Linked DNA regions of Homo sapiens. The protein of the gene in region 1 interacts with the protein of each later gene in a biochemical or structural test. Each region holds a gene or a part of one and is shown on either strand. Other genes may lie near its edges.

Region 1 (3,919 bases):
CAGGGTTTTAGCATGTTGGCCAGGCTGGTCTCGAACTCCTGACCTCAAGTGATCCGCCCACTTTGGCCTCCCAAAGTGCTGGGATTACAGGTGTGAGCCACCACACCCAGCCTGAACAGGCAAGTTTCTTCCGCCCCAAATGCCATCTCCCCTCTCTGCCTGGAGAACTTTTCTTCATTCTTCAAGACCCAGCTAAAATAGCCCTTTTCTGTCTTCCTCTGGGAAATCCTGTCCTTCTGCAGCACTTGGTATATTCCCCATCTCTTTTCCATCCTGCTGTCAGTTCCTGCACACCTGTCTGCTCAGGGCCCTGGGAGGTCCTAACAGGTTGAGGCTAGATTCTGACTGCAGAACAGTTGGTGCTCACTAACTCTTTGCCAGATGGAGCTGAGATGACGCTGACAACTTTGGGCTGGTGGCCCAGGTGCAGTTTGTCCTTGGCTCTCTTGCTCCCTGCCTAATCTATATACCTTACGACAATGCTGCACCAAAAATGTTTATGCAAATTAGTCAATGTGCCAGATTAACTTGGTCAAAGTTTGCTCTTCATGTAGCAGAGTCACCAGCTCACAAGCAAACCAGGGCCAGGCACGGTGGCTCACTCCTATAATCCCAGCACTTCGGGAGGCCGAGGCGGGCGGATCACTTGAGGTCAGGAGTTTGAGACCAGCCTAGCCAACATGGTGAAACCCCATCTCTACAAAAAATACAAAAATCCCAGCCACTTGGGAGGCTGAGGCAGGAGAATCGCTTGAACCCAGGAGGTGAAAGTTGCAGTGAGCTGAGATCATGCCACTGCACTCCAGCCTGGGCAACAGAGTGAGACTCCGTCTTTTAAAAAAAGAAAAGAAAGAAAAGGAAAAAAAGCAAGCCAGCAGAATCCAAAGGAATCAACAGTTCCAGTAGGAGCAGCAAGCCGGCCTTTATTACAGTCTGCTGAATTCTGTATGTTATTTTGGAAATTTCTGGAGCTGCTTTTCTTTTCTTTCTTTCTTTTTTTTTTTTTTGAGATGGAGTCTAGCTCTGTCATCCAGGCTGGAGTGCAATGGTGCAATCTTGGCCCACTGCAACCTCCGCCTCCTGGGTTCAAGCAATTCTCCTGCCTCAGCCTCCCAAGTAGCTGGGATTACAGGCACGCGCCACCATGCCCGGCTAATTTTTTGTATTTATTTTAGTAGAGACGGGGTTTCACCATGCTGGCCAGGATGGTCTTGAACTCCTGACCTCGTGATCCGCCTGCCTCGGCCTCCCAACGTGCTGGGATTACAGGCATGAGCTACCGCGCCCGGCCTTGGAGCTGCCTTTCAATGGTCCACTAAGCCGCACAATGCTTAACGCACAATAGGCACTCAACAAGCATGTCACTGGAGTTCAGAAAATAAGCAAAGATTACTTCAAAACGGCCAAAATGTTGCATCCTACCATGGGCATTGAGGTTCACATGCTGTTCTCTTACAAAAACGCCTAAGGCTCCCAGGTGGCAGCTGGGCACTTATTTGAAGGAGGCAGCAAGAGACAGAGATCCTGCATTCACCCCTGGATGGCTGCGTGATCTTTGAGAAGCTCCTTGACTTCACTGAGCCACAGTTGTTCACACCTAAGACAGAGACGATGACAACAGTCTTGACACTTCACAAGGTCGTGGTGACTGTTAGAGGGGCTGGTGTGGAGGCTGCGGTGCCCGGGAACTAATGCGTGTACAGTTCAGGACCACGAGCATCGCATAGACAAGCAGGGCGAATTCTCCCGCTCCCGTGGGTGAGGGATTGGGACGGTGGCATCATGCCACTCAGGTACACAGACCCGGTCCTGGTCAGCAGGCCACAGACTCTCGATTTGATGCAGCTTCCCAGCGTGCTAGCTTTGCCTGGGGGCTGCAGATTACACACTTTCCTTCTTTAAAGTGTCAGAAAAGAGGAGGCTGGTCAAATCAAGGGTCCAGGGTAGCCACGTGGGGTTAGGACTAGAAAGTGAACTGGCGAGGAGGCCGCCAGATGCCTGCAGGGAAGTGGGGGTGAGGGGCAGGGAAGTGGGGGTGAGGGGCCTGGAGGAGCAGAGCCTGAGGGCATCTCCATCTCCCCTGGGCTGCTTTAGTCTGCCCCTGGGGAACAGAATTCAGATTCTTCAGGGTCCCTTTAAATTGGGGGTGGGCACCTCCTCCCCCACTTTGCAAAATGAGAAATTACATGAAAGAAGGAAAATGGGAATCAAGAGAGGCAAAGAAGGACCAGTTCCACGGCAACCTTCCCCAAAGCACCAGCACGCCGCAGACATGAAGGAGAGGGGCCAGCTGACAGCTCTGATCGGTGCACACCAGTTGGCATAGCGGGATCTGCACCGCTGACCTGCTCAGAGCAGCGGGTACCTGTCGGGGGTTGTTGCCCAGAGGTGACAGCAGGTGAAGAGAGGGTACAGGGTGAATCCTGCATACAGCAGGCCTTGCCTGGGAGGAGCATCCAATCCAGGCAAGATGACAGACGATGGATAGGAACACAGAGAAGGAGAGTTTCCAATGCCCAGTGGTGGACAGAGGAGGAGGGAGAGAGAGCTCTCCGGAATACATTTCCATGCCAATGGCAATGGTCCGCACTCTGAGCTCCAGGATGGACCACCAGTTCTGTAGGGGAAAGCAGGCCACTTCAAAAGAGGGAGGGCCTCTCCGAGTCCCAGGCCATGTGAAGAACAGGGCTGGGGAAAGCGAAGAGACATAAGGAATCTGGGAAGAAATGAAAATTGTGGCACAGACACGTTTACTGAACACCTACTGGGTGCTGGGCCTGGTGTTAGGCACTGGGGTGGGTGTCAGCCCATCTCCTGTCCATGCCCCCGAGAGGGGCTGCTCTGCTCCTCTGCCCCTTCCCCAAGGAGCCAGAGGCAGCTGCGAGAGGGGGAGTCTTTATAAAGACTCTCGTTCTAACTGCCCTGAGCCCAGAAACCACGGCCTCTCCCTGGGCGTCTCAGATTTCGTTTTTCCTTCTTTCCCTTCTGCTGTGAACACAACATCTGGGTTTGAGATCAAGGGTGATACACTGGCTGATGAATTCACCGCCAGATGCCGGCTACTGGAATGTACAACCGTCGGCTGAATTCAAAGCACACGCAACTGCAGGGTCCCCACCCCCACCCCTCCAGCCCAGGACACCATATGATGTCACTTCCCCCCTGCAAAAACAATCCCGAGCGCACCCGCCAGAGTGGGGACGGAAAAGAACCGGGTGGGCGGAAAACCAAGGTCGCGGGAGACGATCCAAAGAGGATGGGCTACGGTCAGACTTCGACAGTCACAACCGCCCCTGGAAAACCATCAGAGGCCGGACCGGCTGCTGCTGCTCTCGGAGGGGAGCAGACAGTGAAGGGGGCTTGCTGGAGAACCTGGTGTCACCAGCATGTGCCAGGGCCAAGGGCTGGCCGGAGGGGCGGCACTCTCCACAGACTCCAACCACGCCAGCCCCAGGCAGAGACGCCACGGCTTCTGTGGCACGGTCCTCCCTTGTTCTCTCTCCTCGGTGTCCCCTCTGCTGCCATCAACACGTGGGTCCTGCGTCCTCACGTCCCCTTCATACACCCACCAACATCTTTCCAATCCTCCTGTGTCCACAGAAGTACTATGGAAGTTCCTGCGGAAAATAAGAACAAGCCATGCCCACAATTGGGGGAGGGAGACAGACCCCAAAAGAAAATTGCCTCGAAAGGCCGGGTGCAGTGGCTCACACTTGTAATCCCAGCACTTGGGAGGCCAAGGTGGATGGGTTGCTTGAAGCTAGGAGTTCAAGACCAGCCTGAGCAACATAGCAATACCTCATCTATAAAAAACAAAATACAAAAAACAAAAACAAAAAAAAACAAAAATTAGCTGGGCGTGGTGGCATCTGCCTATAGTCCCAGCTACTCAGGAGAATTGTATGAACTAGATGTTCAA
Region 2 (3,919 bases), on another chromosome or scaffold:
TCAAAGGAAGGTTATAATTTTAGAAATCAAAATTAAAGAATGGGTGCTGTGTAGCATTATGTTTACTGGGCTTGATATAATCAGTACTTTTGGCATAATTTAAAACATGATTATACTGTGTGTCATTGGATATGTATATAGACACAACATGTTCTCTATCAATATCTATCTATCTATCTATCTATCTATCTATCTATCTATCTATCTATCTGTCTATCGTGTAATCTGTCTCAGTGGTGTGCTGAAGTCAGCTCACACTGGTTGGTAAGAGGTGGCAGATACATTTCCAGGAATTTTGTAAGCTGATTAGGGTCACTTTGGTAGTTTGAAAATGGAGAGAGAATATTTGGACCATGGAAATTGGCAAATGATACAAATCAGAGACTGTTTTTTTTTTCCCTCCTGGACAGTGTGTTGTTAAATAATTTACCAATATACCATTGTAGTTTGGTCAGAAAAGAGAGTGCATACATGGTTCAGTTTACAATGGGAGCAATAATCAATTATTTAGAATACCAAAGTTAGAGAAAAAGAAACTTTTTGGCAATTTGGCCAATAAGTTTATAAATAGTCTTAAATATCACCTGTTTTTCTAATTAAATGTTTTAAAAGTAAATGATAGAGTCTAGTACATTTCTTAATCATTAAATATGTTTTATAACATTTGTACAAAGCTGTTTTGAAACATTTGTTGACTTTTTTTAATCAAACGCTCTGTACTTGTTTTTTAAATAATTGCAGAACTATAAGTTAAACCTAAATATTAATAAAAATGAAACTATATGAAACTATATGAAACTAGATGAATCAAACTTGTCTTGCAGATATAGCTTTTGTGTTTATTTTCTGTAAACTCTGTTTTTTGGTGTTATAGAGCTATTTTTGTATTCAATTTATATGTGTACATGTGTCTGCACATGCACACACACACACACACAAACCTCAACAAATTATAATATTAGAGAAACAGGACTTCTGGTTCATGAAATATTTTACTTAATAGCCAGGAATGACTTATGTTAAAAATTGTGCCGGGCTTATAAGTATCTCTTTGATCTGGCCAACAGCTCTTCCTCTCTTTTCTAAAAACTTCAAAATGCCCTCATTTCTATTTTTTCCCTTTCAGTTAACAATTTAGTTTAAAAGTGCACACTTATGGTTCAGTAAATGGGCTTTGTCTAGTAGTCACAGATGCTGAGTATGAATTTCAATGGATCCGTTAGCTTTACTACTAAGATCTTGCTGAGATCAGAGAAGGGCTTCTGGGCAGGCTGAGCACTGGGGGTGTGCAACATGGTAACTCTGAATAAGAGAAACCCTGAGTTTTACTGGGCAAAGAAAGAACAAGTGGTAGGTATGATTTCTGAACCTGGAAATAGCGAAAATGAAGGAAATTCCAAAAGCGCGTATTTCCAAATAATGACAGGCCAGCAAGAGGACACCAAACCTCTAGAAAGAGGTATTCTTTCTTCCAGCTACTGATGGCTTTGGCATCCCACAGGCGCATTCCTTTGGCCTTCAGGATCTTAGATGCGGATGTGGAGAGTCAAGAGGTAGGCTGACTCTGAGTCTTCAGCTAAATTCTTTGGAAATTAGTTTAAAAAAATAAATTTATAACATTTAATTTCTATGTGGATTTGCTCCTCTTTGAACAAAGCAGAGCCCAGGAGTTTCTGGATGAATACATGTTCTGGTCTTGTTACAGGTTCTGGTAAATCAGATGGAGAAATGTTGTTGCAGAAATGTCAGCAAACTTTACAGCAGTAGTTCACACATGCAGCTACTATACATTCATTCATTGCTATTTTCCTAAGAAATGGAGCAACCTAGGAGCTTATGCTACAGTAGATTCCAATGAACCATAATGACTACTTCAAGAACAAAGAAGCACATACAAAGGTGTGATATCTTCCTGTTGGTTTGAGTTTTCAAACCTGAAATTCTTTAAAATACATTTCTGGGATTTTATTTAAATATTGATGCAACACACCTAAAAAGCAGTGACTTCTTGGTAAAATGTAATACTGAAATGGAAAATTGTCTTTTCAAAAAAATAAGAAGTGTGGTTGGAAATTAAATACCTTTTAAAAAATTAAAAATAAACACACTCTCACAGCTTGGGGGTTTGAATGAACCCTGTACCAAGGAGTTGAGACAACTCTTTCTTTGGGTCACATACTGGAACCCTTAGCATTCAAAAGCTGCTCAGCAAAGATAATTTCAGCATTTCAGTGGCATCTTTCTCTGCTGTCGTATTTCATTCAGAAGCCATTTTAGCATGTCCCCCATATATGGCTTTTCATGACAAATCACTGTGATGCCACACAAAACTACTTTAAGTGTTTTTTCAGTATAAAAGAGTTTTGCATTTAGAGCTCAATATCAAAATTAAGCATGTTCTGTAAAAGCTTAATTTAACCCATTTAATATACTTGTTTTTAAACGAGTCTATCCTGATTTTCCATCCTAGATAAAATTTTAGCTCAATTGCAGTACTTTCCAATCACCTTGGGCAGGGAGGGAAAATTTTTAGGTATAGAACCCAACACAAAGATGCTAAATGTATTCTTGGTGACTTAATTTTCAATCCATATTGTATATGGATTCTACCAAGGGAAAATATTCTCATTTGAATAGGGAGAAATGATCTTTTTCAGGTAATTCTTTTCTTGGCATTTACGAGTGCTGACTGTCATGCTGAACATGGATATCCAACAGGAATCAAGGGGAAAAGCTTAATTTATATTGTTTTGAAAATAGATGTTTCTATGATCATAAAAATCTTTTTATATATTCCTTAAATATTTTGGATGGTGATTTAATACATAAACATATTTGTACAGGTTTTTTTAAAAACACTTTGTAATTTTGCTTACTCAACAAAAATGAGTAATTATGTAAAATATTTTTTGTCATTTTATAAAATATGTCTTTTTGGTATTGTTTTTGGATAATGCATGACCTGTCATTTTCCAAGTAATGAATCCCTGATGGATTACATAGTTACATGACTATGTCATGAATTATACATTTCTTGTCACATATTTGAGGCAAACCTGAGGATAGATTATTGAATAATTGTTATTATTTTCTTTCATAAAATATTTCATTTCTCCATTTTCTTTTTCAGTGGTCTTTTGAAGAATCCAATCTGTTGAGAAAACACAAAACATAACACAATTAACTATTTTAATTTAGGTAGCAAATATTAATCCTTTGGATAGAATTAAATTTAATAGTATATTGGCAATGCTGGGCACACAACTAATATAATTAAGAAATATTTTCTCATTGACCTATTAATATTCAATGTCAAAAAATGACATTTATTAAATTGCTGTTTCTTTTTTTTTCTTTTCTTTTTTTTTTTTGAGACAGTCTCACTCTGTCACCAGGCTGGAGTGCAGTGGCGTGATCTCCGCTCACTGCAACCTCCGCCACCCGGGTTCAAGTGATTCTCCTGCCTCAGCCTCCTGGGTAGCTGGGACTACAGGCATGCACCACCATGCCCAGCTAATTTTTGTATTTTCAGTAGAGACGGGGTTTCACCATGTTGGCCAGGATGGTCTCTATCTCTTGACCTCATGATCTGCCTGCCTCGGCCTCCCAAAGTGCTGGGATTACAGGCGTGAGCCATCGCGCCGGGCCGCGGTTTCATTTTTAATATTTTCATTGGTTAAATACACCATGACCCCTAGTAAAATATAGTATACACATTGAACTAATTAAAAGCTTCTGGGAAAATATTTTGGGAGACAAACTGCAATTAGCTAGCATTGTCTCTTCTTTGCCATCATCTTTTTTTTCAGGGATGTGGCAGAGAAATTTCCATCAAATGATCGATGACCATAAGTTGAGGTCATTAGAGATGGTAGGGAATCTGACAGGTATATTATGGCTAGGGCGTTAGGGAGATTTC

Evidence for each region.
Region 2: the proteins of TIMP2 (region 1) and ITGA1 form a complex in vitro, tested with the Homo sapiens proteins (one study listed by BioGRID).

Annotation. Positions count from the first base shown.
Region 1 is NC_000017.11:78,876,715-78,880,633, forward strand, and holds part of TIMP2 (metalloproteinase inhibitor 2 precursor), read right to left. Parts: intron 1-3,919. UniProt on the Homo sapiens protein: Complexes with metalloproteinases (such as collagenases) and irreversibly inactivates them by binding to their catalytic zinc cofactor. Known to act on MMP-1, MMP-2, MMP-3, MMP-7, MMP-8, MMP-9, MMP-10, MMP-13, MMP-14, MMP-15, MMP-16 and MMP-19.
Region 2 is NC_000005.10:52,951,639-52,955,557, reverse strand, and holds part of ITGA1 (integrin alpha-1 precursor), read right to left. Parts: intron 3,152-3,919; coding exon 3,107-3,151; 3' UTR 1-3,106. UniProt on the Homo sapiens protein: Integrin alpha-1/beta-1 is a receptor for laminin and collagen. It recognizes the proline-hydroxylated sequence G-F-P-G-E-R in collagen. Involved in anchorage-dependent, negative regulation of EGF-stimulated cell growth.